Regions from separate parts of the Homo sapiens genome. Here regions 1, 2 and 4 are each linked to region 3. The links come from fine-mapping of genetic effects on gene expression. A gene starts in region 3. Each other region holds a variant in brackets. All regions are shown on one strand. Distances are from middle to middle. Region 1 overlaps RAD51D (RAD51 paralog D). Region 2 overlaps RFFL (ring finger and FYVE like domain containing E3 ubiquitin protein ligase). Region 3 holds the start of RFFL (ring finger and FYVE like domain containing E3 ubiquitin protein ligase). Region 4 overlaps LOC105371742 (a long non-coding RNA gene).

What was found.
Region 1: its variant is fine-mapped to the expression of RFFL in whole blood (INTERVAL, PIP above 0.99).
Region 2: its variant is fine-mapped to the expression of RFFL in whole blood (TOPMed, PIP above 0.99).
Region 4: its variant is fine-mapped to the expression of RFFL in whole blood (TOPMed, PIP above 0.99).

The regions. Positions count from the first base shown.
Region 1 is chr17:35,111,584-35,119,670 of GRCh38, reverse strand. It overlaps RAD51D (RAD51 paralog D), which reads left to right. Exons shown (of 10, transcript NM_002878.4): 1 at 1-139; 2 at 499-560; 3 at 1,052-1,170. The coding sequence starts at 58. All of the region lies in intron 1 of RAD51L3-RFFL (RAD51L3-RFFL readthrough), which reads left to right. Among named protein-coding and RNA genes, the nearest start is that of RAD51D, 4.2 kb to the left of the region's middle. The variant C/TTC (reference allele first, on the strand shown) is at 3,739.
Region 2 is chr17:35,037,916-35,046,021 of GRCh38, reverse strand. The region is part of intron 1 of RFFL (ring finger and FYVE like domain containing E3 ubiquitin protein ligase); the gene reads left to right. All of the region lies in intron 5 of RAD51L3-RFFL (RAD51L3-RFFL readthrough), which reads left to right. Among named protein-coding and RNA genes, the nearest start is that of RFFL, 22 kb to the left of the region's middle. The variant T/G (reference allele first, on the strand shown) is at 4,985.
Region 3 is chr17:35,058,721-35,066,826 of GRCh38, reverse strand. RFFL (ring finger and FYVE like domain containing E3 ubiquitin protein ligase) reads left to right here and starts at 3,120. Exons shown (of 7, transcript NM_001017368.2): 1 at 3,120-3,251. The region is part of intron 5 of RAD51L3-RFFL (RAD51L3-RFFL readthrough); the gene reads left to right. RefSeq lists enhancers at 2,939-3,038, 2,488-3,283, 2,370-3,569 and a silencer at 3,279-3,348.
Region 4 is chr17:34,860,939-34,869,044 of GRCh38, reverse strand. The region is part of intron 2 of LOC105371742 (a long non-coding RNA gene); the gene reads left to right. Among named protein-coding and RNA genes, the nearest start is that of CCT6B, 96 kb to the left of the region's middle. The variant C/T (reference allele first, on the strand shown) is at 3,600.

The DNA of each region.
Region 1 (8,087 bases), 53 kb before region 3:
CCGCGAATGCCCACGTGACGTGCAGTCCCCCTGGGGCTGTTCCGGCCTGCGGGGAACATGGGCGTGCTCAGGGTCGGACTGTGCCCTGGCCTTACCGAGGAGATGATCCAGCTTCTCAGGAGCCACAGGATCAAGACAGGTGACCGGGTGTGCGCGTGCCAGGGAGCCGCGCGGGCCTCGCACAACCTGGGCAGGCCCCGAGGGCTGGCGCACTGCCCTGGCATACCTGCAGGGCGCTTCCCCTCCATTCCTAGAGGGCCGCGCTTCTGGAGAGGCTCAGGAAGGGTGGGCGTGGGGAGCCAAGCTCTAAAACAGGGTAGAGATTCCTACTGTGTGCAGGGCACCGCGCCGGCTCCTGCAGCTTTGTTATTTCACACTGGCCTCCTGAGACGGCCTGCCGGGGGGTAGAATTGACACCCCATTTGACAGATGAGGAAAAACCAAGTGTGGGAGGCCCCAGTCCTCTCTGCCAATCCGCTATACGTGTTTTGTTTTCAGTGGTGGACCTGGTTTCTGCAGACCTGGAAGAGGTAGCTCAGAAATGTGGCTTGTCTTACAAGGTGAGCTCCTGATCTCCACATTCCAAACCTGAGTGTCTTTTTAAAAAGTCCATCCCAAGCCAGCTGGGCGCGGTGGCTCATGCCTGTAATCCCAGCACTTTGGGAGGCCGAGGCGGGTGGGTCACTTGGAGTCAGAAGTCAGGAGTTCGAGACCATCCAGGCCAACATGGTGAAACCCTGTCCCTACTAAAAATACAAAAATTAGCTGGGTGTGGTGGCCCACGCCTACAATCCCAGCTACTCGGGAGGCTGAGGAAGGAGAATCATTTGAGCCCGGGAGGCAGAGGTTGCAGTGAGCCGAGATCGTGCTACTGCACTCCAATCTGGGCGACAGAGTGAGACCCTGTCTGAAACAACAACAATAACAAAAGTCCATCCCAAGCCAAAGGGAGCAGAGGGTTCTCAGATATTGAGAAGTAGGGTGAATGACACCCTGGGATGCCAGCTTCTACGGGCAATTTGTTGCTGAGCAGTCTGGGGCCCTTTGGCAGGCCCTGGTTGCCCTGAGGCGGGTGCTGCTGGCTCAGTTCTCGGCTTTCCCCGTGAATGGCGCTGATCTCTACGAGGAACTGAAGACCTCCACTGCCATCCTGTCCACTGGCATTGGCAGGTTTGTGTGTGTACTTGGGGAAGAAGGAGAGAGGCAGGAGGATGGGGCCTCCTCTCAGCTCTGCTTTTGATGCTTGAGTCTAGACGGGAGGGGTTTTTTTTTTAACCAATAATGGATGGGAAGGAAAGGGGTCAGGACATCTGAATTCTTATCCTATAACAGGGTTATGGGGTATCTCAGCCTTGGCACTATTGATATTTAGGGACAGGTAATTATTTGTTGGGGGGTGGAGGCTGTCCTGTGCAGTGTAGGATGTTTAGCAGCATCTCTGGCCTCTGCCCACTAGATGCCAGTAGCACCAGCCCTGCTCCAGTTGTAACCATCAAAAATGTCTCCTGACATGGCTAAATGTCCCCTGGGAGGCACAATTGCCTCTGGTTGAGAAGCATTGTCCTATAACACAAGCTGTCAGTATCTCATTATTTTCACCATCTTCTCTGGCCCTACTTCTTATTTTACTTAAGGATATGGCAAGAGAGAACATTTACTGAGTGCCTACTATGTGCAGGCATTACCTGTATGTTCTAGGTAATCTCTTCAGTGACTCTACCAGTTAGAGATAATTAACCCTACTTGAGTTTAGCCTAAGAGGAGCAAGTGGCAAAGGTGAGGCTCAAGCGCGGGAGTATGTGGCCCAGAACTTATTCACCACATCTGCAGCAGTAGAGAACAGGAGAGTTCAGAGAAAGAAGGAGTTGCGGTCCAGATGCAGTGCTCATACCTGTAATCCCAGCACTTTGGGAGGCTGAGGCGGCAGATCACTGGAGGCCGGGAGTTTGAGACCTGCCTGGCCTGCTTGCCCGCCCAAAATGATGAAACCCCGTCTCTACTAAACATACAAAAATTAGTCGGGCGTGGTGGCGGGCGCCTGTAGTCCCAGCTACTTGGGAGGCTGCAGCAGGAGAATTGCTTGAATGTGGGAGGTGGAGGTTGCAGTAGGCCAAGATCGCACCACTGCACTCCAGCCTTGGTGGCAGAGCGAGACTCTCTCAAAAAAAAGGAGCAGTTATGTCCCGCCACGTTGTTTGGTGGGTTGGGGAAGAGTTGCAAAGACGACAGACGTTTGCTGGCCAAGTGAGTCTTGACCTTTTTCCTGGTCTGTTTGTTCAGAAATTGATGAATAACTGCCACCATAAAGGTCTTTGGATTGGTGTGGCCCTTTCTGTTTCCTTAACACATTCTCTTGGCAGGGTTCATGCAGTGTGGTGCTTGCTTTCCCTGGTTGGGGGTCTGAGTCTGTGATCCATCAAGCACTGGCTAAGGGCCTGCTGGGTGCTTGGTATGTGCAGATGATACATACACGAATGAGGCAAGGCCCCTGCCCTTAAGGCCTCTAGTTGGGTGTAGGGGAAAATCAAGTGAATACAAGAGAGCTGTAAGCACCGAGGGAGGCAACGGTAAGGAGGGAGTGGTGAACAGGAAGCCGATTGGCCTTGGGCTTAGGGAGTTTATAAATCCAACAGACATGGAGGGCGCACTCAAGTGGGAACCTGGGAGGACTGCAGCTGCCTCAGGTCCCCGCAGGGAGATCGTGGAGTGGGGTCAGGAATGCTCTGAAGAAGGCAGGACTTGGGCATGGAGGAACAGATGGACTTTCGCTGAATGCTTTCGATGAACGAGGCACTGCGGTCAGCACTTCACGGTACATTATTTCATTTATTCGTCACAACCACCAATGAGCATGTTACTGTTTAAATCATCATTCTAGGCCGGGCGCAGTGGCTCACGCCTGTGATCACAGCACTTTGGGAGGCTGAGGTGGGCGGATCATGAGGTCAGGAAATCGAGACTGTCCTGGCTAACACGGTAAAACCCCGTCTCTACTAAAAGTACAAAATATTAGCTGGGCGTGGTGGCGGGCGCCTGTAGTCCCAGCTACTCGGAAGGCTGAGGCAGGAGAATAGCATGAACCCGGGAAGCGGAGCTTGCAGTGAGCGGAGATCGCACCACTGCACTCCAGCCTGGGCAACAGGGCAAGACTCCATCTCAAAAAAATAAAATAAAATAAAATAAAATAAAAATAAATCATCATTCTATAGGTGAAGAAATTGGGACTCAGGTTAAATGACTTGTTCAAGATTGTGCAGTTAGCAAACGGCAGACCAGTTATTTGAGTTCATGCTTGTCACACTCCTAAGTCTAAGAACGCGGCTCTTAACTCATCTGCCCGGCTGTCTCCCTGGAGGCGGGAGGCCATTGTGAAAGCAGGGTTATAGACAGTGGGGTAGAGGTGTGCAGGGTGGAAGGGTGGCAGAGGCCAAGCAGGGCCCTGGCAGTGCTGGCCTGGGGTATGTGAGTCCAGTCTAGAACAGTGGGAGACATGTTGAAGAGGAACTGTGACAAGACCTACTACCAGGAGGAATGTATTGTGAAGAATCAAAGCTGACTCACCAGGTTTCTAGCCTTTCTTTCTTTCTTTCTTTTTTTTTTTTGTCGGAGTTTGGAATGTATTGTGAAGAATCAAAGCTGACTCACCAGGTTTCTAGCCTTTCTTTCTTTCTTTCTTTCTTTCTTTCTTTCTTTCTTTCTTTCTTTCTTTCTTTCCTTTCTTCCTTTTCTTTCTTCCTT[C/TTC]CTTCCTTCCTTCCTTCCTTCCTTCCTTCCTTCCTTTCCTTCTTTCCTTCTTTCTTTCTTTTTTTTGACGGAGTTTCACTCTGTTGCCAGGCTGGAGTGCAGTGGCGTGATCTCGGCTCACTGCAACCTCCGCCTCCAGGGTTCAAGTGATTCTCCTGACTCAGCCTCCCGAGTAGCTGGGACTACAGGTGCGTGCCATCAACGCCCAGCTAATTTTTTGTATTTTTAGTAGAGATGGACTTTCGCCATGTTGGCCAGGATGGTCTCGATCTTCTGACCTCGTGATCCGCCCGCCTTGGCCTTCCAAAGTGCTGGGATTACAGGCGTGAGCTACCATGCCCAGTCTCTAGCCTTTCTTACCGTGTGCTGTGGACAGTTAATGGTGTAACTTTAAAACTTGGGAGGAGGGGAGTTCTGTAGTCAGAAGTTTGAGAAATGCCTGACTAATCCAAATTAAACAGGTTTCTCTGTTGTAGGCCGCCTCAGAACCTTTAGTGCTGAGGTGCAATGATTCCTTACAGGGTGTTATAGCATGTAACGTACTTTGGGAAAAGCTATGTTGATGAGGGAGATTGATTATTCCTTATAGGCCAGAGCTAGGTCTGTTCATCCCACAGTCCCCTCATTTTAGAATAAGACTGTCAGGAAATATGAGGCATTGAAGTGGTGTGTGAATGGATGACTGAAAGAATGGCTAAAAGGCAGTTCAGAGGGAAAGGCAGAGGATAAGTCCCAGAAATCACCTGTATTCTAGGCAGTGGTAAAACCCAGGTGTACTTCTGCTTCATGGGGCAAGACAGGGGTCTCTCCCTGTTGACATGCGGAGTTAAAGGTGATGGGGACATATTGGTAGGAAGGTTCTCTGGGCAGTCGGAGAGGCACGGAATGGAAACTCAGGTGAGAAGTTGGCTGGAAGGTGGATTTGGGAATACCTTATACAGACTGATCTCCACAGCCAAGGATGTGGTTGATTCTTGACTAGAGTCAACACCAGTGCTTCAACCCCAGCTGCACGTTAGAATCATCTGGGAAACTTGAGATATTCATGCTCTGGTCCCAACTCTATATATTCTAATTTAATTAGTCTAGGTCAGTGGTTCCCAAACTTGTGTGCCCATTGGAGTCACCTGAGGACTCTTTTAAACATTACGAAGTCCAAGTCTCCCCCAGACCAATTAATCTCATTCACTGTGAGTGGGACACAGGCATCAGTATTTTTTAATTTTTTAATTTGTTTTTTAGAGACAGGGTCTTGCTCTGTTGCCCAGGCAGGAGTGCAGTGGTGCACAATCATAGTTCACTGCAGCCTTGAACTCCTGGACTCAGGCAGTCTCCCTGCCTCAGCCTCCCAAGTAGCTGGGACTACAGGTGCTCACCACCATGCCTGGCTAATTAAAAAAAATTTTTTTTTTTTGTAGAGACAGGGGTCTTGCTGTGTTGCCAAGGCTGGTCTCAAATTCCTGGGCTCAAGCAATCCTACCTCTGTCTCCCAAAGTGTTGAGATGACAGGTATGAGCCACCATGCCTGGCCAGGCATCAGTATTTTTTTGAAGCTCCCAGGTGAATCCAATGTGCAGACAACTTTGGGTACTGCTGACATAGGCATTTTTTAAAAAACTCCCCTGATTTTATTTTATTTAATTAATTAATTTTATTTTTTTGAGACGGAATCTTGCTCTGTCGCCCAGGCTGGGGTGCAGTGGCGCGATCTCGGCTCACTGCAAGCTCCACCTCCCGGGTTCATGCCATTCTCCTGCTTCAGCCTCCCAAGTAGCTGGGACTACAGGCGCCCGCCACCACGCCCAGCTAATTTTTTGTATTTTTAGTAGAGACGGAGTTTCACCGTGTTAGCCGGGATGGTCTCGATCTCCTGACCTCGTGATCCACCCGCCTCGGCCTCCCAAAGTGCTAGGATTACAGGCGAGAGCCACTGCGTCCAGCCAACTCCCCTGATTTTAATGTGCAGGCAGGATTGAGACTAACTACTCTAGTCTAATGGTTCTGAAACTTGAGCAGGCTTCAAAATCACTTGGAGGCCTTGTTGAAACTCAAGTTTCAAGTGTGGGCTGCATTCCCAGAGTTTCTGATTCAGTAGGTCTTGGGGAGCGGAGCTGTGAATTTGCATTTCTAGCTAGTCCTTAAAGGTTGCTGATGCACCTGGTCTGGGGACCACACTGGGGTTCCTCTGATCTCAATGGGAAGAATGGAATCAGGAGTGGTAGAGGCTGGATACTTATTAAACAGAGATGGGGTGAGCACAATTATCTCAAGAAGCCACAGGGCTAGAGTGGTAACCAGAGTGTTTTGACTGGCAGGAACCTGTGGGTATAATCATGGGGAGTCCCTGGAATTAAAATGGTTGGGGGCCAGGCACGGTGGCTCATGCCTATAATCCCAGCACTTTGGGAGGCCAAGGCGAGTGGGTCACCTGAGGTCAGGAGTTTGAGACCAGCCTGGCCAACATGGCGAAACCCCATCTCTACTAAAAATACAAAAATTAGCCAGGCGTGGTGGTGGGTGCCTATAATCCCAGCTACTCGGGAGGCTGAGGCAGGAGAATTGTTTGAACCCGAGAGGCGGAGGTTGCAGTGAGCCGAGAGCACACCACTGCACTCCAGCCTGGTGACAGAGCGAGACTCCGTCTCAAAAAGAAAAAAAAAATGGATGGGATGCTTACTAAAGTGCTGTTCGGCATATACAGAGAGGTCATGGGAGGTCATCAAGAACCATCTCAAGGACTGGAACCTAGGAAGGTGATTGTAGGGCTAGGAAAGGTACGCATGTGATCAGGCATTGGTACAGGCCGTGGCATAGAAGAAACTTCAGCCTAGAGATAGGGCAGGGCATGGAGGGTAGGTGGTGACCTGTTTCATGTGGTTGAGGGAGAGAACCTGGTTTAGGAATTGGCATGTCATGAGGTTTATCCCAAGTCTTTCACAGCCAGTGTTGATGATACAGAAGCGAAATAAAAGTGATAGCACCTTTCTGTTACTCATTTTTCTGGAATGATTATTGGGTGCCTCCTGTGTTTCAGGCACTGTGCTAGTGCTGGGGATGCGACAGGGATCGGACCCAGTCCTTGCCCCATGGTGCTCTCAGCTAGATGAGCAAGACAAACAAAAACAAGCAAATAACAAATAATTACAAACTCCTAGGACTAGTGAGGATACAAGACCAACACATACAAATCAACTGCATTTCTCTATACTCACAGTGAACATGTCAAAACTAAAATAAAAAACACTACCATTTATTGGCCGGCCGCAGTGGCTCATGCCTGTAATCCCAGCACTTTGGAAGGTCGAGGCAAGTGGATCACCTGAGGTCAGGAGTTCGAGACCAGCCTGGCCAATATGATGAAACCTGGTCTTTACTAGAAATACAAAAATTAGCTGGGCGTGGTGGTGGGTGGTTGTAATCCCAGCCACTTGGGAGGCTGAGACGGGAGAATCACTTGAATCTGGGAGATGCAGGTTACAGTGAGCGGATATTGTGCCACTGCACTTCAACCTGGGTGACAGAGTGAAACTGTCTCAAAAAAACAAAACAAACAAAATGGCTGGGCGTGGTGGTTCACGCCTGTAATCCCAGCACTTTGGGAGGCTGAGGTGGGCAGATCACAAGGTCAGGAGATCGAGACCATCCTGGCTAACACAGAGAAACCCCATCTCTACTGAAAATACAAAAATTAGCTGGGCGTGGCAGTGTGTGCCTGTAGTCCCAGCTGCTGGGGAGGCTGAGGCACGAGAATGACGTGAACCTGGGAGGCAGAGCTTGCAGTGAGCCAAGATTGCGCCACTGCACTCCAGCCTGGGCGACAGAGCGAGACTCCGTCTCAAAAAAACAAGCAAATAAACAAACAAACAAAAACACAATGCCATTTATAGTTGTTTCAGAGAAATGAAATACTTGGGTATAAGTCTAACAAAGCATGTGTAGAATCTGTATGCTGAAAATTTTTAAATTGTTGATGAAAGAGATCAAAGATGACTCGGATAAATGGATGACATGTACTTTGTTCATGGATTGGGAGACTGAACATAATGAAGATTTCAATTGTCCCCAAGTTGATCTGTAATTTAACGCAGTTCCTATTAAAATCCCAGCAAGTTTTTTTTTTCTATAGACATAGACAAGCTTATTCTAATAATTACGGGAAGACCAGTTTTACCTAGATTAGCTAAAACAATTTGGAAAAAGGATAGCTGGAGGAATCAGTCTACCCAGGGTTAAGACTTGCTATATAGCTACATAATTAAGCCTAGTGTGGTATTGACCAAGGGACAGATGGACACAGATCAGTGGAACAGAATAGATAACCCAGAAATAGACCTCCACAAGTATACACA
Region 2 (8,106 bases), 21 kb after region 3:
ACAGAGTCTCACTCTGTCAGCCAGGGTGGAGTGCAGTGTGCAATCTTGGCTCACCGCAACCTCCGCCTCCCAGGTTCAAGCGATACTCCTGCCTCAGCCTCCCGAGTAGCTGGGACTATGGGCATATACACCACCACGCCCAGCTAATTTTTTTATTTGTAGTACAGATGGGGTTTTGCCATGTTGGCCAGGCTGGTCTCAAACTCCTGACCTCAGGTGATCCGCCGGCTTCAGCCTCCCAAAGTGCTGCGATTACAGGCGTGAGCCACTGTGCCTCGCCAATTGTGCAATTTTAAGCATGAATTTCTGTCCTTTTTTTTTAAAAAGCGCTCTATTGCTGTTATCATTAGTTAATAATTCAACAAATATGTGTTGATTACCTGGCATTAAGGCTGAGAATAAAGCTGTGAAATAGACCTACTCTTGTTTCCTGTTTCACTTTCCACACCCTAAATATGGAAGAAAAATACTTTAAAAAGAATTATATAGGCCGGGCATGGTGGCTCATGCCTGTAATCCTAGAACTTTGGGAGGCTGAGGCGGGCAAATCACTTGAGGTCAGGAGTTCAAGACCAGCCTGGCCAACATAGTAAAACCCCATCTCTACTAAAAATACAAAAAATTAGCCAGGCATGGTGGCACGTGCCTGTAATCCCAGCTACTCAGGAGGCTGAAGCATGAGAATTGCTTGAACCTGGGAGGTGGAGGTTGCAGTGATCTGAGATCATGCTACTGCACTCTAGCCTGGACGACAGAGTGAGACTCTGTCTCAAAAAAAGAAAAAAAAAAGAATTATACAAACTGTTAGCCAGTTGATTAGATACAGTACTGCTAGAATGCTCTTTCCCCCAGAATGTAATCATTATGAGATTCAAGGACCTTGCCTGTTGTTGTTCCTCTTACGTTCTCCAGAGGTACAGGAGATTCATGCTAAATAGTCTGATAAATCAATTATGGTTATAAGGAAGTGTATAAGATTCTATGAGGCCAGGCATGGTGGCTCACACCTGTAATTCCAATCCTTTGGGAAGTTGAGGTGGGAGGATCACTTGAGCCTGGGAGATCGAGGCTGCAGTGAGCTGTGATCGCACCACTGTACTCCAGCCTGGGTGACAGAGTGAGACCCTGTCTCAAAAAAAAAAAAATGTTATGAGAGCACAGACAGGATCAGGAAAGGTTTCCCTGAGGAAATAAATGATATGTAAGGGAGGTGAGGTGGCAACAGTGCTCCAGGCTGAGAGAATAGCTGAATAGCTTGAGGGAGGGAGATTCCTAAAGCCAAAATAACCTTGGTGTTTGAAGAACTGAAAGAATAGGATAGAGTAAGGAGTAAGGCCCTGAGCACTAAGGATTTGCTTTCATTATTATTTACTAGTTACCCAGTGACAACACTTACTTTATTTTTTTTGAGATGGAGTCTCGCTCTGTCTCCCAGGCTGGACTGCAGTGGTGCAGTGTCGAGTCACTGCAACCTCCACCTCCCAGATAAGCGATTCTCCTGCCTCAGCCTCCGTGCAGCTGGGATTACAGGCACCTGTCACCATGCCTGGCTAATTTTTGTATTTTTAGTAGAGACAAGGTTTCACTGGGATTACAGGCGTGAGCCTGCCGCGCCTGGCTGACAACACTTATTAAAAGGAGGGTAGACCAGGTGCGCTGGCTCATTGCCTGTAATCCCAGCACTTTGGGAGGCCCAGGTAGGATTGCTTGAGGCTAGGAGTTCAAAGACCAGTCTGGGTAACATAGACCCTGTCTCTACAAAAAAAATAAAAATAAAAAATTAGCTGGGCAAGGTGGTGGGTATTTGCAGTTCTAGCTACTCAGGATGCTGAGGTGGGACGATCGCTCAAGGCTACAGTTTGCTATGATGGTGCCAATGCACTCCAGGCTGGGTGACAGAGACTTGTCTCAATAAATGAATCAATGAAATAGAGCATTAGTTGCAGTTGAGACAATTAAGTCAGAAAAATCTCAACTGGAGCAAAAGTAAGAAGAGAAACTGAAATACACCTTAAATATCAGTTAAAGGCTTTATCTTTAGAAGGTTGGGGGTCTGTATCACTGGTACCCTGAACTTGTAGAAACTAGAAATGCAGATGACTTATGGGATGTATAAATTAAAGTTCTGTAGTCCCAGGAATGGTTTTTCTATGTATTATACTTTTTACAAGGTGCTTAAGGTACTTTTTATTGAATCCTACAAAAATCAGACCATTTTAATTCTGATTTTTGTAGGATTATTGTGTTAAATAAGACAACAGATGCAAACATAACAACTAACTTGGCACATTTTAGGTGTTTTGTAATGTTTTTACTTTGTAATCTTCTGAGAAAGGACTTCAGGAACCCCAAGTTCTGAATAACTCCCCCAATTTTCCCCGTGTCTGCCATCTGAAATAATAGCACAGAAGATTATGTCATGTCTAAAGTTTTGATCCTTTACATTAAAGTATAACTTGGGGACTGGAGGAGAGAAGAGGCTCTAGTCCTTGTGTCTTTGATGTTACTGACATCTCTGTGTGAAAGGAGGCTCTGGAAGCTGGTTTGGAGAGAGGCAAACATTTAATCCTCATGAGCCCATGCCTTATTATAATGACGGCTATTTACTGAATGTCTAACACTGCCCTCTGCTCTTGATGTAAGATTGAAAAGTCCAGTGAAGTTATGATCCCCCTTTATACTGAGCACCACCTCTATGTCCAGCCTGTGAGGTGTAGGGAATGTATTCCTGTTACTCTGAAGCTCCTAGTGGCAGCTTACTCAAGCTCATTCATTTATTCAGTGTTAGAGCCAGGATTTAAGGTCAGGTCTGACTGATTTTAAAGCCAAAGTAAAACATACTTGGGAACAGCTTTTTTTCCCCCCACCTTTCTCTCCAACTGTTCTGTCTTCTTAAACTTTAGACCTAAAATAAAATTCTTACCTAGGAAATATGCATTTATCTGTTACCCATATCCAAAGGACTGCCTTGGAGGATAGAAAATGTCTATTAGTATTAAAAGCTTTGGAAATGTTTTCCTCCCCTGAGTTCTGGCCTGTGAAATATTCCTTGTTTATGTCCAGCCCATGCACCACTTCAGCAGGGCTCTTTATCCTAATTCAGGCCTTGGATTCTAAAGTTCTACCATATACATGTCTTCTCTATGACTTAGGTATTCTGAATTCTTTTTTCTTTTCTTTTTTTTTTTTTTTTTTTTTGAGATGGAGTCTCATTCTGTCGCCAGGCTGGAGTGCAGTGATGTGATCTCAGCTCACTGCAACCTCTGCCTCCTGGGTTCAAGCAATTATCCTGCCTTAGCCTCCTGAGTAGCTGGGACTACAGGTGCATGCCACTACGCCCAGCTAATTTTTTGTATTTTTAGCAGAGATGGGGTTTCACCATGTTGGCTGGGCTGGTCTCGAACTCCTGGGCGCTCAGGTGATCCGCCTGCCTTGGCCTCCCAAAGTGCTGGGATTACAGGTGTGAGCCACTGCGCCCGGCCACCGAATTATTTATTCTAAAATAAATATCTCAGAAATAGTATCACAGAGAACATGCTTCATTGTCCCACCCCCAGCATATGAGACCAGTTAGTAGTATGGTTTACTCAGCAGGCTGCTTACTTACAAATGCAACAGTTGTCCTATTTTATGCTCATTGTGTTGTCACCAGCATTTTAAATCTTTACAAGTCAGGGTGGGTACCTCAGGCAGGTTTGCTGGAAAATTCCAGTAAACAGTTTCAAAGGAGTTCAAGTTGCTTGCCAGACTAACTTACTTTTAAAAGTAAGCAGCCTTCCAAGTTAAGAGATGATTTTAAATTTCAGGTGAGTTCTCAGGACATTGTGATTTTTTAATTATGCTGTTGGTATAAATCAGCTGTGTCAGGGCCTGTCCCACCAAGAGCGTTGGGTGGTAAGAAACCCAAGCTTTGGGTGACCAGAGAGAGGAGAGAGACCTTGGGCTTTCCAGCCAGTAATGCCTATGAAACATGTAGGTCATTGGCATTTTATTTTATTTATTTTTTTGAGATGGAGTCTCGCTCTGTGGCCCAGGCTGGAGTGCAGTGGTGTGATCTTGGCTCACTGCAACCTCTGCCTCCCGGGTTCAAGCGATACTTCTCCCTTAGCCTCCTGAGTAGCTGGGACTACAGGCATGTGCCACCACACCACTAATTTTTGTGTTTTTAGTAGAGACGGGGTTTCACCATGTTGTCTAGGCTGGTCTTGAACTCCTGACCTCAACTGATCCGCCTGCCTTGGCCTCCCAGAGTGCTGGGATTGTAGGAGTGAGCCACCATGCCCAGCCATCATTTTAGAATTATAATTTTTAGCTGGATGCGGTAAAAAAAATCCTTTCTCAGCCTTCAGGTCTCATCTCAAGTATCACCGACATGAGGAGTCCTCCCCCATTTACACACACCAGCTCGGTGTGAAGAACCGAAAGGTCACACTACCTTTCGGTTCTTCACACACCAGCCCACTATGGCTTGAAGTTAACGAGTGAGAAAAGTAGCACGGCATGAATTGGAGAAGTGGTCAGGGTCTTTAACCATGTAAGAAGTGATTATTTTTATTCTAAAATGCAATAGGAGTCCATTAAAGAACTTTTTTTTGAAGAGTTTTTAAACATTTTTATGTACAAAGAGTTAACATGATTTCTTTCATTGGGTGGATGCCTTGGATAATCCATCCAAGGAAGATCACTTCTAGGAACAAGCAACATTAAAGAGCTTTAAGTGTGTGTGTTGAGGGGAGGAGGGCAGTGGGTGATGCCTTGTGGAGAAATAGGTGGATAGAGGCAAGAATTAAAGCTAGGAAACCCGTTAGGAGGCTGTTCTTTTACCCAAGAAGCCATTCTAGACTCTGGAAATTCGGTAGAGCACAAAGTCCCTGCCCTCATGGGGTTTCTATTCTAGTTAGGGAAAGCAGTTAATAAATAAGCAAATAATATCAGCTAATACCAAATGTTATGGTGAAATTAGAAAATGACATTAAAAGGCTGG[T/G]CGTGGTAGCTCACACCTGTAATCCCAGAGCTTTGGGAGCCTGACGCAGGAGGATCCTTAGAGCCCAGGAGTTCGAGATTACAGTGAGCTATGATCAAGCCACTGCACTCCAGCTTGGAGAGAGACCCTATCTCTCTCTCCCTCACACACACACACACACACACACACACACCAAAAAAAAAAAAAAAAAAAAAAAGACATTAAAGCTGATGTTTGGATGACAAGAAGGAGCTAAGCATAGGAAGTTCTAGGGAGACCAATCCAGGCAGAAGGAACAAACAACAAATCTAAAGGGCCTAAGGAGGGAAATGTGATTAATATATGAAAGATGATGTTTTAACCCACCAGCAGGAGCAGGGGAGATGAAGGTAGGAATTTATGCATCTTTGATTTAAGAAAAGTATTTTTTATTTTTTTTTTACTTTTTTTTTTTTTGAGAGAGAGTCTCGCTCTGTCGCCCAGGTTGGAGTGCAGTGGCATGATCTCAGCTCACTGCAACCTCTGCCTTCCAGGTTCAAGTGATTCTCCTACCTCAGCCTCCCAAGTGGCTGGGACTATAGGTGCCTGCCACCATGCCTGGCTAATTTTTTATATTTTTAGTAGAGACGGGGTTTCACCATGTTGGCCAGGCTGGTCTTGAACTCCCGACCTCAAGTGATCTGCCCGCCTTGGCCTCCCAAAGTGCTGGGATTACAGGTGTGAGCCACCACACCCGGCCAAGAAAGGTATTTAAAGCAACCTGAGGTGTGGTTGGAGAGGGAGGCCTAAGACAGCCTGGACACTCACAACATTTAAGAACAGAGGGAGGGGTAAGAAGCAGCAAAAAGGCTTTGAGGTAGGAGGAAAGCCACGGGGGCAGAGTGCTAGAAGCTAAGAGATGTTTAGAGGGGGAGAGTCGCTTGTGTCCAGCATTGCTGAGAGATTAAGATGAGGATAGAGAAGTGTCAATTAGATCTGGCCACTTGGAATTCCTTGGTGACCTTGAAGAGATTAGGAATGGTGGTTGGCTCAAGCTAGATTGGAGAAGGTTTAAGAGTGAATTAGAGGTTAAGAAAGTGGAGTCGGCCAGATGCGGTGGCTCATGCCTGTAATCCCAGCACTTTGGGAGGCCGAGGTGGGCAGATCACCTGTGGTTGGGTGTTTGAGACCAGTCTGACCGACATGGAGAAGCCGTCTCTACTAAAAATACAAAATTAGCTGGGCATGGAGTTGTATGCCTGTAATCCCAGATACTCGGGAGGCTGAGGCAGGAGAATTGCTTGAACCCGGGAGGCAGAGGTTGCAGTGAACTGAGATCGTGCCATTGCACTCCAGCCTGGGCAACAAGAGTGAAATTCCGTTTCAAAAAAAAAAAGTGGAGTCAAATATTTGGAGAAATTTGATTTAGAGGAGATCACAGAAAAAGAGCTTTACTGGGGAGGGGGAGAATGTGGGGTCAAAATGGGGTTTTATTTTTTATTTTTTTGTTATTTTTTACAAATTACAAATATTTGACTAGGTGCTTTAAAAAATCTGTCATTGGCTGGGCGTTGTGGCTCATGCCTATAAGCCCAGCACTTTGGGAGGCCGAGGTGGGCGGATCATGACGTTAGGAGATCAAGACCATCCTGCCCAACATGGTGAAACGCCGTCTCTACTAAAAATACAAAAATTAGCTGGGTGTGATGGCACGTGCCTGTAATCCCAGCTACTCGGGAGGCTGAGGCGTGAGAATCGCTTGAACCCAGCAGGCGGAGGTTGCAGTGAGCCGAGGTTGCGCCACTGCACTCCAGCCTGGCGACAGAGCGAGACTGCGTCTCAAAAAAAAGAAAAGAAAAAAATCTGTCATATGGGCTGGGTGCAGGGGCCCATGTCTGTAATCCCAGCACTTTGGGAGGCTGAGGCGGGTGGATTGCTTGAGCCCAGGAGTTCGAGATCAGCCTGGGCAACTTGATGAAACCCCATCTAGACAAAAAAATACAAAAAATTAGGTGTGGTGGTGCGCGCCTGTAGTCCCAGCTACTCGGCATGCTGTGGCAGGAGGATCACGTAAGCCTGGGAGGTCCAGGTTACAGTGAGCCATGGTCGCAACACTGCACTCCAGCCTGAGCAACAGAGTGAGACACCCTATCTCAAAACAAAACACAACACTCATATAAACTTTTAATTCAAATGTAACTAGAGAAGTATATAAATTATAAGTGTACAGTTCGATGAATTTTTACAAAGTCAACATATCTACATAATCAGCATTCAGAGTAAGAAACAATGTTACCAGAAGCCCCTTGGGCTGCCTTCCATCTGTAATCCTACCTCACAGGATGACCACTATCCTGATTTTGAACACCATAGTTTGCCTGTTTTTGAATTTTATGTAAAACGAATCATTTCCCATGTATTCATTTATGCCTCCTGCTTTTGCTCAACATAAGATTCATCTGTACTATTGCATGTATCAGTTGTTTGTTTTTTCTCATTGTTCTGTGAACATATCATAATTCTACCGTTGATGGACACTTCAGTTGTTTCCAGCTTGAGGCTATTACAGTAGGGCTTCCATGGATATTCCTGTATACTGTTTGGGTGAATGTATTTCTGTTGGGTATATGCCTGGAAGCAGAATTGCAAAGCCATGGAAAGAGATGTGGGTGCGCGTGTATATGCACGCGCGCGCACACACACACAAAATTTCCAAATTGGAGTAATTTACACTTCCACCAGCAATATTAGAGTTCCAGTTGCTCTTTTTTCCTTTTTTTTTTTTTTTTTTTTGAGACAGTTTTGCTCTGTCATCCAGGCAGGAATGCAATGGTGCGATCTGGGTTCACTGCAACCTCTGCCTCCCAGGTTCAAGCGATTCTTCTGCCTCAGCCTCCTGAGTAGCTGGGATTATAGGCATGTGCCACCACGCCTGGCTAATTTTTTGTATTTTTAGTAGAGACGGGGTTTCACCATGTTGTCCAGGCTGGTCTCGAACTTCTGACCTCAGGTGATCCGTCCGACTTAGCCTCCCAAAGTGCTGGGATTACAGGTGTGAGCCACCATGCCCGTCTGCTCCAGTTGCTCTTTATCCTTATCAACATTTGCTAGTATCTCTTTTTCATTTTAGCTATTCCAGTGGTGGTAACACTTTGTGGTCATAA
Region 3 (8,106 bases):
AATTATCAACAAGGTGAGACAGGCACTGATTCCTGGAAATGTGCATTTATCCATTCACCGACTTCTCAGTTAGAAAAAGGATGTGGACACAAGTAAGATTAATTTTGTTAAAAACAAGAAATGTGCAGTATCATTTAGGATGCTGGGGGTAGGGAAGTAGATAAAAGGGAGATGTTGAGAGGAAAGAGTGTGAAGAGAGAGTAAAGCAGTTTGTAAGTGATACAAACTTTAAAATTTTAACTGAATTTTAAACTACCAAGTCATATTTGAATATATGCTTGTTGTAAAAAAATTCATGATTTTTGGGGGGTAATTTGGATAAAGCTAAACATAGCTATTTGATCTTTATTCCCATTACAGTGCTCTCCCTGCTGTGTGCATCCTCCCAGATCTTCTGTATGTATTTGGTAATTTTCTGTGGATTTGGAAGACTACAGAATCCTGAGAAATGGATATTTTAATTTCTCTTTTGAAACCTGCTTATTGTTTATAATGTCAAGATCTATTGCAGAAAAGAAAGTAAATCTGGGATGTCAATGACATCACATATGTCTGTTCAAATGAAACAATGGGCACATACACATATGCACACTCATTAAATATCTGTTGAGACCACCCTATTAAAAAAAGCATAAATAGTTTTGGGTGTTAAGTTACTTGAGTTTTAAAATAACGTATTTTCTGTTTTTGTTGTTTTTTGTTTTGAGATGGAGTCTCCTTCTGTCGCCTGGGCTGGATTGCAGTGGCGCAATCTCGGCTCTGCAACCTCTGTCTCCTGGGTTCAAGTGATTCTCCTGCCCCAGCCTCTAGAGTAGCTGGGGTTAGAGGTGTATGCCACCATGCCTGGCTAATTTTAAAATAATGTATTGAAAGAACTTAGTCAGAAAGCCACAGTTATTATTTCTCCCATAGCCTCATATTCTCATAATTTTCATGTAACCTCATAAATCCTCAAGTGCCTGAAACCACTAGTTCAAACGAGTACCTTTTTAAGCTCTAAAATGTAATCCTCAACCTTTCCACTTTAAAAGGAAGAACTAGGATGGAGTGTGGCTATAATTTGGGGCAGTTGGTTAAAACTGTATCAGAGTCCCAAAGAGGGGAATGATAAGCTGCAGCAGCTCTGTTCACTTGCTCAATGGTGTTTCTCTTAGTCAACTTAGGAGTTCCATGCCTTTGGCCTTCAGGCTGCTCTTTATATAGTTCGTATCTGTCTCCTGGGCATAGTACTGTCTGGATTTTCTCTTTCTTTTTTTTTTTTTTTTTTTGAGACGAAGTTTTGCTCTGTTGTTGCCCAGGCTGGAGTGCAATGGCACAATCTTGGCTGACTGCAACCTCTGCCTCCCGGGTTCAAGCGATTCTCCTGCCTCAGCCTCCCGAGTAGCTGGGATTACAGGCATGTGCCACCACACCTGGCTAATTTTGTATTTTTAGTAGAGATGGGGGTTTCTCCATGTTGGTTAGGCTAGTCTTGAACTCCCGACCTCAGGTGATCCGCCCACCTCGGCCTTCCAAAGTGCTGCAATTATAGGCGTGAACCGCTGTGCCCGGCCCTCTTATTTAAAGTTCGCAAATACAGAACAGGTCAGGAGCTTTTCTAATCATTTTTTTTTTTTCTGAAGGAGGTTCCATATTTGTCTGTACCTTGAGAGTTGTTTCATACTAGAATTTGTAACTTATCATCAACTACAGAAATTTTTTTTAAAGTGTGGTTGAAGAGATAATGGTTGTCAGCTGCTATAAAGATGTGTTTATCATTCAGAAAGGACTAATTAACATGTACTATAGGGAAACTTCTTTAAACAAAGCCATTTTCTGAAAGGAAAACACTGAAGGGGAGGAAATAAAACAGGGAACATTTTATAATACCTTATCAAAGCTCAGCGTGGCTATCCTACTGGAATAATGTAATTAAGGAGAATTAAGTGAGTTGGATAAATAACTTTTTAAAACTAGCCCCTTGAATAGAAAATTAAGTAGTATAGTTTTTAAACTCAAATTCTGTCTGCACGTACATTTTAATTAACCTAACATTATTGAATGACAAGCTGAGTTGGCAGCTACATCCAGAGTTCATGCCATGTGAGACCTACCTTAAAGGATGAACGAAGCTGGGTGCAGAGGCCTCAAATGCCCTGCTAAGAAATAGCTGATGGCCTTGGGGAACTGTCATACATTTTAAGCAGGAAACAGAAGGATCTAATAGGAACTTTAGTTTCTCTCTTGTCAAATTAAAGCACACAAAAAGCAAGGACTTGATCTTTTTTTTTTTTTTTTGTATAACACCAATGTCAATTCTAGCCTGTCAGGGCAAATTCAGTAATTAATAGCTGTTGATGAGCCAGTCATTCTAGATTGATTTTTTAAATAAGCAGGCTAATAAATGAGAATTGACATAAATTTAGGGATGTCTCTTTTCAGAGCAAGTGTTAAGGTGATTTTCATAGTCTTCTGTATTCCCTATGCATCCAGTAGGTGTGATGGTAAATGATTTGGCTTTAGCATAGAGAATGTGGCAGCTGATTAAAAAAAAAAAATTCCAGTGCATCTATCTTAATGAGAGAACTTGAGTTGTCTGAAGAAATAGAGAGGTCAGAGGAGGCCTAGTGGGAAAAAAGAACAATGAGCCTGGTTAGAACTGACAAAAATTCACCCTAATGATTTGACTGGCTAATGATGACTGGGCAAGTTCCCTGAGTCCACTGACCCAGATGTTCTAATTTGTAAATGCAAAGTGACTTATTTATCAGCCTCCTGGGGAAATCTTCAGAGCTGTGAACCTGCTATGTTCAGTAATCTTGCTGGCCCCAGCCCCAGCCTGTTCTCAGATGAAATTTTAGAAACTGGCCACTGGAACTTTTTGGGTAAGGGCTCTGGAGGTGGCCAAGTTACCAGTAGTGGGGGAATGAGGTTTACCTGCCCCCAGTAATCAGCACTTGATTTAAAACAATCAGTGAGCTGCCTCTTCTTTCCTAGGTTGCAGTTGACTGCGGTTGGTTCAGGCTGAGTTGTTTGGGAAGTACAAATTTTGCCCAGCGTGAGTCAGCACTGCCCTGGGTAAACTCCCTGCTGTGTTGCAATCTTGCTTACCAAAGATACATCCCCAGGCGGCACCATTCACTTCACATGAAAGCCGCTGCTCTTGGTTCCTGAGATGATCTCATCTGAACATGGCTCCAGCGACCTCAGCCACAGGAACTAGAGACAGCTTGCTTTCTGTCGTGGCAATGTTTTGAAACTGGCAAAATCAGGTAACCTCAAACTGTTTTCTTAAGTTTCATTAGCTAGATGAAGCTGCATTAGAAACTGGGAAAATCCTGTCTTCAGAAGTGAGTCAGGTTTTTTTTTTTTTTTTTTTTTTTTTTTTTTTTGAGACGGAGTTTCACTCTTGTTGCCCAAGCTGGAGTGCAATGGTGTGATCTCGGCTCACTGCAACCTTCACCTCCCGGGTTCAAGTGATTCTCCTGCCTCAGCCTCCCAAGTAGCTGGGATTATAGATGTGCGCCACCATGCCCGGCTAATTTTGTATTTTTAGTAGAGACAGGGTTTTGCTGTGTTGGTCAGTCTGGTTTCGAACTCCCAAGCTCAGGTGATCCACCCTCCTCAGCCTCCCAAAGTGCTGGAATTATAGGCATGAGCCACGGCCCCCGGCCAGAAGTTTTCTTTCATTTGAGTTCTGGATGTGGAGTTAGGTCCAATTAAATCACTGATTATATAAATCTTAGAAAAGTAAAACGTTAGGTTTACAGCTTTATCCGTCATTTGCTCTTGTATTTTGTTTTTTTGTGTGTATCTTGTGAGAAACACTTTAGTCAAACTAAGCCATTGTTAAAGGAAAAGAAGTGAAGGCATTTGGTTGCCTTCCTAATAACTAAATATTGAGTTGTGGAGAACACTGTCTTATCAGTGAGTTTGTTCCCATATTCCTTTCTGAATTAATAGGAAGAACCTCCCTCATCTCTAATTCTACTAGGCTACTACTCTATCTCCCTCCTGCTTTTCATCGCCAAACTTTTGAGTCCTTCACCTAATCAGACTATGATATCTCTAGGTAGTCGTCACCCTCCAAATTACGTTTCTGCTCCTTATAATTCCAACAAATTGCCCACGTTCTCTTTCACCTCAGACCTTAGCATATGTAAGCGTTCTTTTACACACCTTCCCCAAGCTTAATCTGGCCAACTGGTTTCAGCCTAGAAGTCACCTCTTCCATGAAGCCTCTTCTTACTTACCAGGGTTGAGTACTCAGGAGAACCTGGTATTTACTCCAATCATAGTATGTATTGAGAATCAGGGTCTGCTTTGCTAGAATTGTATCCATGGTACGTTGCACATAGTAGGTTCTCAGTAAGGGTAGAATGAGCAAGAGCCTGTACTGTACTTTCTCAACTCTGATCCTCTCATCAACTCTTTTTTTTTTCTTCTGAGAGGAATCTTGCTCTGTCACCCAGGCTGCAGTGCAGTGGTGTGATCTTAGCTCACTGCAACCTCTGCCTTCCTGGTTCAAGCGATTCTCCTGCCTTAGCCTCCTGAGTTGCTGGGACTACAGGTACGTGCCACCACGCCCAGCTAATTTTTGTATTTTTAGTAGAGACAGTGTTTCACCATGTTGGCGAGGATGGTCTCGATCTCTTGACCTCATGGTCCACCTGCCTTGGCCTCCCAAAGTGCTGGGTTTACAGGTGTGAGCCACCGCGCCCGGCCTTGTTCATTCTTTTTATGCTCACATCTTTAAATGTGCTAAACCCTGTTGATTTTGTTGGAGTACTGTTTGATGTGTGGCTTTTCTTCATTCCCACTGTCATTGCCTTAATTTACCAGAGGTCAAAACTGGACGTTTAAAGTCAGGCTGGGCACGGTGGCTCACGCCTGTAATCCCAGCACTTTGGGAGGCCGAGGTGGGCAGATCACCTGAGGTCAGGAGTTTGAGACCAGCCTGGCTAACATGGTGAAACCCCATCTCTACTAAAAACAAAAAATTAGCTGGGCGTGGTGGCACGTGCCTATAATCCCAGTTACTCAGGATGCTGAAGCAGGAGAATCACTTGAACCCAGGAGGTGGAGGTTGCAGTGAGCGAGGATCACACCACTGCACTCCAGCCTGAGCAACAGTGAGACTCCATATCAAAAAAAAAAAAGAGTTTGAGACCATCCTGGCCAACATGGTGAAACCCTGTCTGTATTTAAAAAAAAAAAAAAAGGCACGCCACGCATGGTGGCCAGTGCCTGTGGTACCAGCTACCCAGCAGGCTGAGAAAAGAGAATTGCTTGCACCCAGGAGGTGGAGGTTTCAATGAGCTGAGATTGTGCCACTGAACTCCAGCCTAGGCACAGAAGAAGACTCCATCCCAAAAATCAATCAGTCAGCCTAAGGGCTTAAAATTTTGTGTGTGAATACTTTTAGGCACCATCAGAGAGAAGGCCTGTACTCTTCAAAGATTACGGATACCACCATTTTCTGACATCTTACACACTGAAGACTTAGCATTTTACCTGCATTGCCTCTAGGAATTTGAGTTTGTAACTCCTAGTTCAGACCCTTATCAAATGGCCACTCCTCCATAAGTCTTTCCTTGCTCCTATCTTCTCCATATTGTTGCCCAAGTTATCTTTTTAAAGTCCACATCTAATCTTTTCATTTAAGGTGCCATTTGTTCCCTGTTTTCCACTTAGCTTGACTTCTAAAAGCTTTCACAGTTGGATTCTTTCCTACATGTTGCTGTTAACCATCTCATCTCCCTCTCCCCTGGCCATTTCTCTCCTCTCCAGCTTCACTGAACTTCTCATGTTAACATTCCATGGATATACCATGTCTTTTAGGACTCTGCCTTTTCCCAATGGACTCTCCCTTCTCTAACTGGCAAGATACTCATCCCTCAGGACACTTAGTTCATATATGCATCTTCTCTGACTTCTCTGTCTTTTCTGACAGACAGCACTGTCTGTCTCTTCCACTAGACTGTTGAGTTCTTTGACTGAACTTGGTGTCCCTGGACTAGAGCTTGGCACCATCAGAGAGAGTGGCTGACGTGGATCTCCGGGCTCAAACCGTTATTCTTTGCAATATTAGAAGCTTTTTTGTTAGATGGCATGGTTTTTCATTCCTATTTGATGAACATGAGCCCATGGCTGCTTATTTTGTATGTGTTACCTGCCACCATCAAGTAATCATTCAAAGTTAATTTGAAGATTTAAAGGGTTTGCTGAGATCTAGTCCCGCAATATCACGACATTTTTATGGTGTTTTACAAAATTATTTCCCTCATATGGTTTTATTTGCGTTGGGTAGGCTTTATTTATTATCCCTATTTTACCAGTGATTATAAAGCTAGTCTGATACCAAAGCATATATACATTTAGGTAAGACTCAGAGAGAAAACATGGTTCTTACACTGCATTAAGCAGCTGGTTTGTCTCTTAATATAGTAGTTAAATATACTCTATCAGGTTCCACAGAAATGGTGCCTTTGCTCGATAGGCAAGTGCTAACGGTCTTGCCTTTTACAAGGCCACTTTATCATCAAGGTAGGAGGAGGAGGTACTCTGAACCTGCCTGACCTATGGGAAGGCCCTGGTTGTGGTTAGAGACCTTGATTGAAATTAATGGTGTGCGTACTCCAACCTCTCAGGTTTTTCTTTTATACTTCAAATATCTGGAAGTTGTGAAAACCTGCTGCCCTGGTGGAGTATCAAACCAGGCTGGTGAGTGAAAGCGGTCATCCCAAAATGGAGTAAGCTGAGTGTTAAGGGCAGAAAACCTTTTACAGTTATAGTAAGTAATTAACTTTTTAGATCACTTCACAACTTTTGGAGTGCTAAAATGCCATATTTGGGACTATGAGAAATTCCATTATAAAAAGCTGAACCATTAGAGCTAGGAAATAATCTCTGTTAGATATTGGCATATGGTGTTCAATTTTGGGTCTCTCATACTTGAGAGGATAATTAAAATGATTAAAAGGTTGAAAAACAGGTCTTATCATTATAAGTTTTAAAAAGGGGGGAAAGATTTTAGCCTAGAGAAAGAAAAGCTAAGAGATAACTTCATTATCATCTTCAAATACAAGAATAGTTTTGCCAGGGGGATTTTTATTAATTATTCTTCATGAACTTCAAAGATTTAAGAGGAAATGGTCTTAAATTGAAGGAGGAGCAATTTTGATGAATACGAGAAAGAATTTTTTGATCATCAAAGTGGGGAAATGTTTGAATGACTGCCCAAGAGAGTGTTGAATTTCTGACTGTTTCAGTTGTCTATTGTGTGACAAATTACCCGAAGACTTTTGGTGGCATAACATGACAACCATTTTATTGCCTATGATTTTGTGGGTTAGTAATTCAGGAAAGGAGGACATATTTTTTTTTGTCCCATATGATGCTGATTGAGCTGGAGGATCCAAGAAGGCTGCACATGTCTGTACCTTTGGAGCTAGCTGTTGGCTGGGATATCTTGGTTCTCTGTGAGTTCTCTTTCTTGGTCTCTCATCACTTATAAACCTATATCGAGTGGCCGAGCGCAGTGGCTCATGCCTGTAATCTCAGCACTTTGGGAGGCCGAGGTGAGTGGATCACCTGAGGTCGGGAGTTCCAGACCAGCCTGACCAACATGGTGAAACCCCGTCTCTACTAAAAATACAAAAATTAGCTGGGTATGGTGGTGGGCACCTGTAATCCCACCTACTTGGGAGGCCGAGGCAGGAGAATTGCTTGAACATGGGAGGCGGAGGTTGCAGTGAGCCAAGATTGTGCCATTGCACTCCAACCTGGGTGACAGAGCGAGACCGTCTCAAAAAAAAAAAAAAAAAAAAATTCTAGCTCGAGCTTCTTTTACATGGTGGCTGGGCCATAATGGAAGCTGCAGGATCTCATAAGACCTAGGCCTGGCAGTCATACATCATCACTTTTGCCCCATTCTTTTTGTCAGAGTAAGTCACAATTATAGCCCAGATACAAGAGGAGGGGACATTGACTTCACCTCTAAAGGATAGAGGGTAAAAATCACATTGCAAAAGGGCATGCAATGTGATTGGGATTATTACTACCAACTTTATTTTTTGAAACAGAGTCTCGCTCTGTCACCCAGGCTGGAGTGCAGTGGCGCAATCT
Region 4 (8,106 bases), 200 kb after region 3:
AGCTACAAAACTACCTGTAAGTTCCAGCTTAAAATAAGAAATAAAGGGCCCCTTAAGCATCCAACACAATAAATGAAAAGAGCCCACACCAATTCACACATCATTGTGAGTCAAAAGAGCCACAGGAGAAGAGAATATTCTAAAGATTTCCAAGAAGGAAGCCAGGTCACTTTCAGAGGAACAAGAATCAGACCTGCACCAGACTGTCATCAACAACATCAGACACTTTCACATTCTGAAAGAAATGATTTTCAACCTAAGCTTTCTACATCCCACCAACCCATTATTCAAATTGCAAGAACCCATAGACTGTCTCCCATAAATCCTTTTTAAGGAAGCAACTTGAGGATGTCTTTTAATAAGTAAGGGAGTAAACAAAATAGGGGAAGACTGGGAATGCAAAAAGCTATACATAGAAATCAGAAGAGCTGTGCACAAGCATAAAGAACAACCAGTCCAGATTGAAGCAAGAGAACTGAGTGCTCCAGCAGGCAGGGGTGGTGGTGGTCCCTAAATAAAAGGGGAACTCGGTAGAATGGGCTTTATAAAGACTTTTAAAAAATTGGAAATGTGACAAAGACAATTAGGACTAAAGAATAAAGAAAGACAACTCAAAACGTATAAACACACACATACACATTTGTATCTGAAATGAAACTGTGATTATAGTACACTACTTGGCTCTGTAGTGAACAGTCTTTACCTAGGCACAATAATAGAAATACTTTTCAGTGATTTTCAACTCTTGGAATCAATCTGAAAGAACTATTGTGGTTACAGAGTAGATGTAGATATTATCAGTTTTTACAGTGTAAAAGTAGAAGTGTAGATGACAGACAGCATTAGGAGGTAGAAGTGGGAGAGGTGAGGTGAAGGGAAGGATGGGGGTAGAAATATTCTTTTTGTACAATGTACAAATTCTCTTTAAAAAGTGCATCTGTAGAGGATGGAAGATCACAAAAGTAACCAATAGAAGAACTAAAAATAGAGATATGGCAGGAGGGATGGAGGTGGTGTGAGTGAGATAAATCCTTGTCTATTCTAGCAGTAAGTCAATAGATTGTGTCTAAAATTGATGAATCAAGAAATATCAGTAGAAGCATATTATTTAGAAAAATGGAGGTAAATATAAGAAAAGACATTTAAAAAAGTTAGATGTGGCTGTCTAGGGGGGACAGAACAGGGAGTAAGAAGTATTTTAACAGGAAACTGTTTTTAACCTTGTGCATATATGACTTTGAATAAAAACAGACTTTGTTTTTTTTTAAAGAAAAAGGGATGCAGGCCAGATCTAGGAGGAGATTATAAAACCATCATCTTTTCCTAAGGACAATCAAGGCATCAAAGAGCCCCTAGTCAGCCCCCCACCTGGAACAGGACTTCCAGTAATGCTTTGAAATCTGGTGGCTGTGAACTCATTCAGTCTTTACAGGAGCAGAGATTTGGATACTTTGAAATGTCACTAATTTTCTTGCCAAGGCTTCTTTGTGATAAACTTCAGCTCCCCCTTTATCCCCCTCAAAAATACAATTTTCAATAAATAGCAAACTCATAAATAACATGGGGCACCGTGGCTCCTAATGAAACAGTGACAAATGCTATATCTTCATGGGATCAGGAGAAATAACAAAGGGGGGCACATGGAGGGAGCTGGAGCCCTCAGAGCATGTGAGATTTTATTAAAAATCCTTTAAGTTTCATGTGGCCCATTACAGTCATTCTCTTGCAAAATAATTAAACATTGTTCAGAGACATGGCTGCTTTATTAGGAGAATGCTTTATTAGTGAAGGGTAGACTTCAAGTCTGCCCAAGAAAGGTGGAATGGGCTGGCCTGCAGTCTGGAGGCCCGGGTTCTCTCTCTAGCTCCCTTGAAAGGCAACTGTATGGCCTGGGAGAGTCCTTGGTACTCCCTGGGCCTCAGTCTCTTCCTCTGTAAAATGGGAGGGCCAAATTGGATTTTTGTTCCTAATCTGTTTGTATGTGGTGGACAGGTTTTCTCCCTCTGGAAAATGTGCAGCCACACACATGTAATTTTGTACATAATTTCAGGAGGCTCGCAGATCCTCGACATCCCATCTGCAGTCCTCTAAGGTCATACTAGCTTGGATACTCAAGGATTCTGTTCTTTTCCTTCTCCATGGATCATGGCCTACAGCATCTGGCTATGGTTTTAATCAGATCATTGTTTTAACAGGGTGAAGCAGAGCTTTCCAGGAAAGTTCTTGCTCTCCATAGGTACCATCTTTCACCAAGCACTGGCTGGTGGTGTGAGCATCTAGTGCTTGGTGCAAACCTGGCTTGCAAACATCTGACCTAGGAATGTCCTGCACGATCAGCCAGCTAGCGTGTGCTGGACTCAGCTCCGCAGCAGCTGATCCCTGTGGAAGGAGACCAGCTCCTTGAGACTTCAAATCCCTGTTCCTGAGGGGGGCAGTCCCAGGCCTTTTCCTGCAGTTGTGATGTATAGGGGAGCTCTGTGTGGCTCACTTTCAGGGTTCCTGGGCCAGCATCTTCAAGTTCCCCACTTATTCTATTCCCCAAATGCTACCTATGACACTGCCTCTGGAATCCCGCTAAGCAAATGATTCTCTGCTTCTTAAGCAAATCTTTCTCCCCCTAGACTGGGGAGGCCCATGAACCTCATCCTCCGTCCCTGCACAGTGTGTAGGTTCTTCTGTCTCCCTGTGTGTGTCTGGCTGCTCGAAAGCCCAGCACATCTATCCTAGCCTCCTAGGCTGCTGATACCACTTGGAAGCATAATAACCACCATTTCTTGAGCACCTTTTACATGCCTGATGCTGAACACAGTGTCTTCATCCCCATGGTTACAGAGGGAAAAACGGACACTCAGTGAGGTTAAGGAAGGTGGCCAGGGATACAAAGCTGGAAATGGCTGTGGGTGGCAAACTTATAAGATAGTCCCCCAATAACCCCAGAATTCCTGCCCCTTGGTATCTATGCCCTTGAGTAATTCCCTGTCTCTGAGTGTGGGCTGGACCTAGTGACTTGATTCTAACCAACAGTGTCGCAAAGGTGGTAGGATGTCCCTTTTCTGATTAGGTTACAGAAGATTGTGACATCAGTGTTGCTAGCAGGCTCTTTATTGCCCTCTTGGCTTGCATGCTTTGATGAAGCAAGCTGCCATGAGGGGGAGGCCCATGCGGTCAGGAACGGAGGCCCTCATTGCGACGGCCTGCAAGAAACGGAATCCTGCCAACAGCTATGTGAATGAGCTTGGAAGTAGATTCTTCCCTACACAAACCATTAAATAAGATTGCAGACCTTGGGCCAACCCCTTGATTGCAGCCTTGTGAGAAACCATGGCTTGCAGAGGACTCAGCTAAGTTGCACCCAAATTCTTGACCCTCAGACACTGTGAGATAATAGATGTATTGTTTTAAGCTGCTAAATTTTGGGAATAATGATTACACAGCAATGGACAATGAATACAATGGCCAAGCTGGGATTTGAAGCCAGGCCTGCCTGGCGTGGAAACTCTGGATGGGTTCCTTTGCACCAGGCTGCCTCTCTCCACCTTCCCAGTTCAGCCCCAGGGTGGAGGAGCCGCAGGGATCTGGTGGGCCCTGTAGCACCTCAG[C/T]CTCACATACACAGTGCAGGGTCTGGTGGACAATGACATAGCCATGACTGGAGGCTGGGGGATGGTTAGTGAAAGAGGAGAGCACTCGATCAGGAGCCTCTGGGCTTTGCTCCCAATGAGCCCTGGGACCTCTGATAGGCTTTGCATGCTTTGGGGCTCAGTGTCTCTGTGTAAAATGGGGTTGTTGGAGGAGGACATTGCTAAGGCCATTCCCACCTGGCTCCTCTGAGTGAGAGCTGGATTCTCTGTCTTCCTGAGGTCTTTCCAGGCAGCCCCACCTCCAGAGTGGAGTGATCGCAGAGGGAGGATGGAGGGTGGGAATAGAGGCTGTGGGAAGCTGGTCTGGTGGCCTTTGTGACTTGAGTCCCTAGTCGAGGGGAGTCCTGCCTTAGCCCCTGAAATTCCTATCTAACTACCATTTTTCTGGGGGGTCTATCAGCGAGTTTTGGGTCTGGGGAAGAAAAAGAAGCCCTCTGGACTGGAGGCCTTATTCCCAGAGCAAAGGTGAAGGTGGTGGGACAGTGTGTATCCTAGCTCCGGTGGTGAGACTGGACTTCAATAGGGGACACTTAGTATGTGCAGGGCGTGATAAATGCGTGCTCATCTTCCCTCTGAATTATTTCAGTTCTCTGGCCCCGGGATGATTTATGCAGCTGAAAGGCTAAAACAAAAGTTACTCAACTTATTTCTTCCTCTTCTTTCCTTGCCCTTTTCTGTATCTCAACAGGGGCAGAGATGGGAGGAATTTTTTGGTTCTTTCTTTTTTTTTGTTTTGTTTTTTTTAACCATCTCTAGTAAATTATACCTTTGGATACTCACACAGGCCCCTCTGCTGTCTCTGAGCTGCATGGAGACCCTGAGGTCCAGAGAGACCTCCTGTAATGCTCTAAGGAGACAGGCAGGTAGAGGGCTTCAGCGTGCAGGCTTGGAGGCAGACCTCTTGGTTTGAATCCTGGCTCCACCACTTACTAGCTGTGTGACTTTGCTAAGTTACTTAACCTCTCTCAGCCTCAGTTTTCTCATTCTATAAAATGAAGACTTTACCTTATTTCATAGGATTGTTGTAAGTACTGAATGTGACAAAGTATGTAAGGAGCTCAGCATGGTGCTGGGACATAGTTAGCAGTGAGTCAATGCTAGTGATGATGTTTATTCGCTGTCCTGAGATGCGACCAACTTTAAGTCTGTTGACCTTTAATCCTGTGTTTTTCCCCAGTAGGCTGTGTTACCAGCTGCGCCTCTCTGTGGAGTTCTGTTGCTCCTCTAAAGTTGGCACTTTGTTTAATTCTAATTTAACCTTGTTTTTCTGCTGCTTCTTGAACGTGTCCTTCAGTCCTTTCTTGGAGGCAGCAGGGGTGAGAGGAAGATGAGAAGGAAGAAGAGGAGGGGAAGGCAGAGGAGAGAGAAAAGAGAGCATGATAGTGGGCCCCAGAGGAAGAGGACCTAGCTTCTCACCTTGGAAATCTACCTAAAATTCACCAATAACTTTCACATTCATCATCCTTTTCCCCCCCGCATCTGTAGAATAGATGGGGTTATTAACATGTGTAAGGTTTTATTGTTCCCATTTGACAGAAGGGAAAAGCTGAGATTCAGGGGAATAAAGTGACTTGCCCATGGCAACGCTGCTGGAAAGAAGTAGAGTGGATCCACCTTGGTATTTGGGTCAATGTCTGGAACCTTCGCCATTGTTCCAGGGCTTCAGACTCACCCTTGAGACTCAGTGACCCTTGGTGAATCTCCTCTCTGGCCCTCTGTTCTCTTGTTTAGAAATGAGGTGCTGGGCCCAGATCATCTTGGAAGGCCCTTCCAGACTGGTTCTTGCTCCCAAGTGGAGCCCAGGTCTGCCTGGTCCTCAGATGGGAGGAGCAAATGTCACGGACTCTCTCTGACTTGGTTGCTGATGGGAATTTTCTGCCTCAAGTTCTTTGTGTTTTTGGAGTCTTGGGCCCTAGATGCCAAGCATCGTACTTAATTATTCAGAAACCCATGTATCCTCTGTAAGCTAGAAATACACTCCGACAGGCAAGAAATGCCACAAACTGTTTATTGCTCTTTGCTTCAAATCTGGAGTGGGAGGCAGGGGTTGGGCAGCACCTCTGGCTGCAGGAGGCAAATCCCTGTTCACATTTGGGCGTAGATGCTCCCATCTTATCTGGCTGTGTTAGGGAACCCAGGTTCCCACTCTCCCATCCACCTGCTGAGTGGCTTTTGGAGAGCTATTGTCCCTCTTGGAGCTTCAGCTTCACCTTCTGAGAAATGGGTTCACATACACCCTGCCCTCTAAGAATGGCGAGTTGTGGAGCTCACTCAGGACCTGAGAGAATTTCTCAATCATGGAGTTGAATAATGTTGCTGATGGGGTTCACCTGGTCCATTTCCTGACCTGGGTGCCGGGCAGGGAGGGAGAGTATAGAGAAGCAGTCCCTAACCTCTTTGGCACCAGAGACTGGTTTTGAGGAAGATAATTTTTCCATGGACTGGGGTGGGGGTGGGGATGGTTTTAGGATGATTCGAGCCCATTACATTTATTGTGCACTTTATTTCTATTATTATTACATTGTAATAGATAATGAAATAATTACACAACTCACCATAGTGTAGAATCAGTGGGAGTCCTGCACTTGTTTTCCTGCAACTAGATGGTCCCCTCTGGGGGTGATGGGAGACAGTGACAGATCATCAGGCATTAGATTCTCATAAGGAGACTGCAACCTAGATCCCTCACATGCACAGTTCACAACAGGGTCCACACTCCTATGAGAATCTAATGCCACCGCTCATCTGACAAGAGGCGGAGCTCAGGCAGTAATTCGAGCCATGTGGAGCGGCTGTTGATAAAAACTCTTTGCTCTCTTGCCAGCAGCTCACCTCCTGGTGTGCGACCTGGTTCCTAACAGGCAACAGACTGGTACTGGTCTGTGGCCTGGGGCTTGGGGACCCCTGGTGTAGGTAACTACAGGAGGGTGAGTGGAGATTTCCTTTGTCTCAAGAGTTTTGGGGGAAGGAGGATGTGCCTCTTCTTCTAGGGATTCATCCCAACCCTGCAAAGTCTCTTCTTTCGTGGGCTTAGGGGAGCATCAGCTCTGTACAGGGTCTTTGGATCAAGATGGTAGGAAGTAGCTGTGCTCATCAGGCCACTAAGGGGGAAGAGAGAAACAAGTGGGTCAGTCGCTGGGCTGAGGACTTTACTTAGCTGAGTTTATCTGCTTTTGTTCAGCAACCTTGTGTAGGTGCTGGTCCAAAGGATTTCTCGAGTCAGGATTATGACACCACTTATTAATCAATTCATTAATTCAATCACTTAGACATGCATTTGACCAGCATGTAGTGAGCCTGATTCTGAGTCACGCTCCGGGCTCAGCTCTGGGTAGTGTGTGTGTATGCATGCATATGCCTGCATGTGCACATGATAAGACAAGATTAAGACTCAGTCTCCAGGGATCTCACAGTTAACTAGGGGAGGCAACCACACACTGGGGGCTGGGGTGGCAGCATACAGTGGACAGAGCAAGCTACTGAGGAGGGCATGGTCCATTCTTCATTAGAAGTGGTAGAGAGGGGATATCGGGGAAGGCTTCTTGGAGGAGGGGACCTTCATGTCATATAGGATGCCTTGAGTGTTATTATACTATATGGATTTTCTTAGAATTATTACAGTGTAATTATTCCTAATGAAGAAGGTGTAAGTAGAGGGGACCATGACCAAGTGGCCACGTCTTCTAAGTTAACTGCAGAATTGGACTGTGGGGTCAAAACTCTTCCCTCCATCCCATGTGCAGTGCTCTTCATGTGGGACATGCTCCTCATCCCTAAGTGCTCATTGCAAACAGACCCCTTGAGTCTTCACACTGTGGGCAAGTGGCTTGGCTGGGACAAGCACCCTGGCCTCCCAACCCCCAGCACAGTGCTCTTGCCACTCCTGCCATTGTCCCTGTCCTCCACCAGTTCTTCTAGATAAGACTGCCCACCACTCAGGTCCTCTGCGTTGTGAGGGTTCTCCACTCCCTGGGAGCTCACAGGGGCAGGCTCAGACGCTGAAGGGATTGGGCCAGCACCTAACACTCAGCACCCTTGTCCCTGCAAGGTGGGGCCATAGAGCAGGGTGCTCCTTGGGAAGAAGCACTCCCCTCAGTACAAAGTGTACCTGGGGAGTTTTATTTCAAATGCAGCAAGAGTCACTGAGTACTTACTGTGCATGAGACACTCCTTGGGCCCAGGGTGAGGATTCAGAGAGAATCTAGGCCTGGTGGTCTCTGCCTTTGTGTGGTCAGGGATGCACCTGCAGGCTTCAGTAAGGTGTCTTTCCTGGTGGAGGGGGCACTTTCCCAGTCTATTCTTTGCTGTGTGGGCTAAAGTGGAATGTGTTTCCTATTTGGAGCTGGAGGATGTACCACATGGGGCAAGACCAAGACAGGTCTCATCTAGGAGACCACAGCATATTCCAGGCAGGTGACAACAGCAGTCTGGTGAGGTCCGAGCAGAGAGGCAGATGCTACCAGTGCCT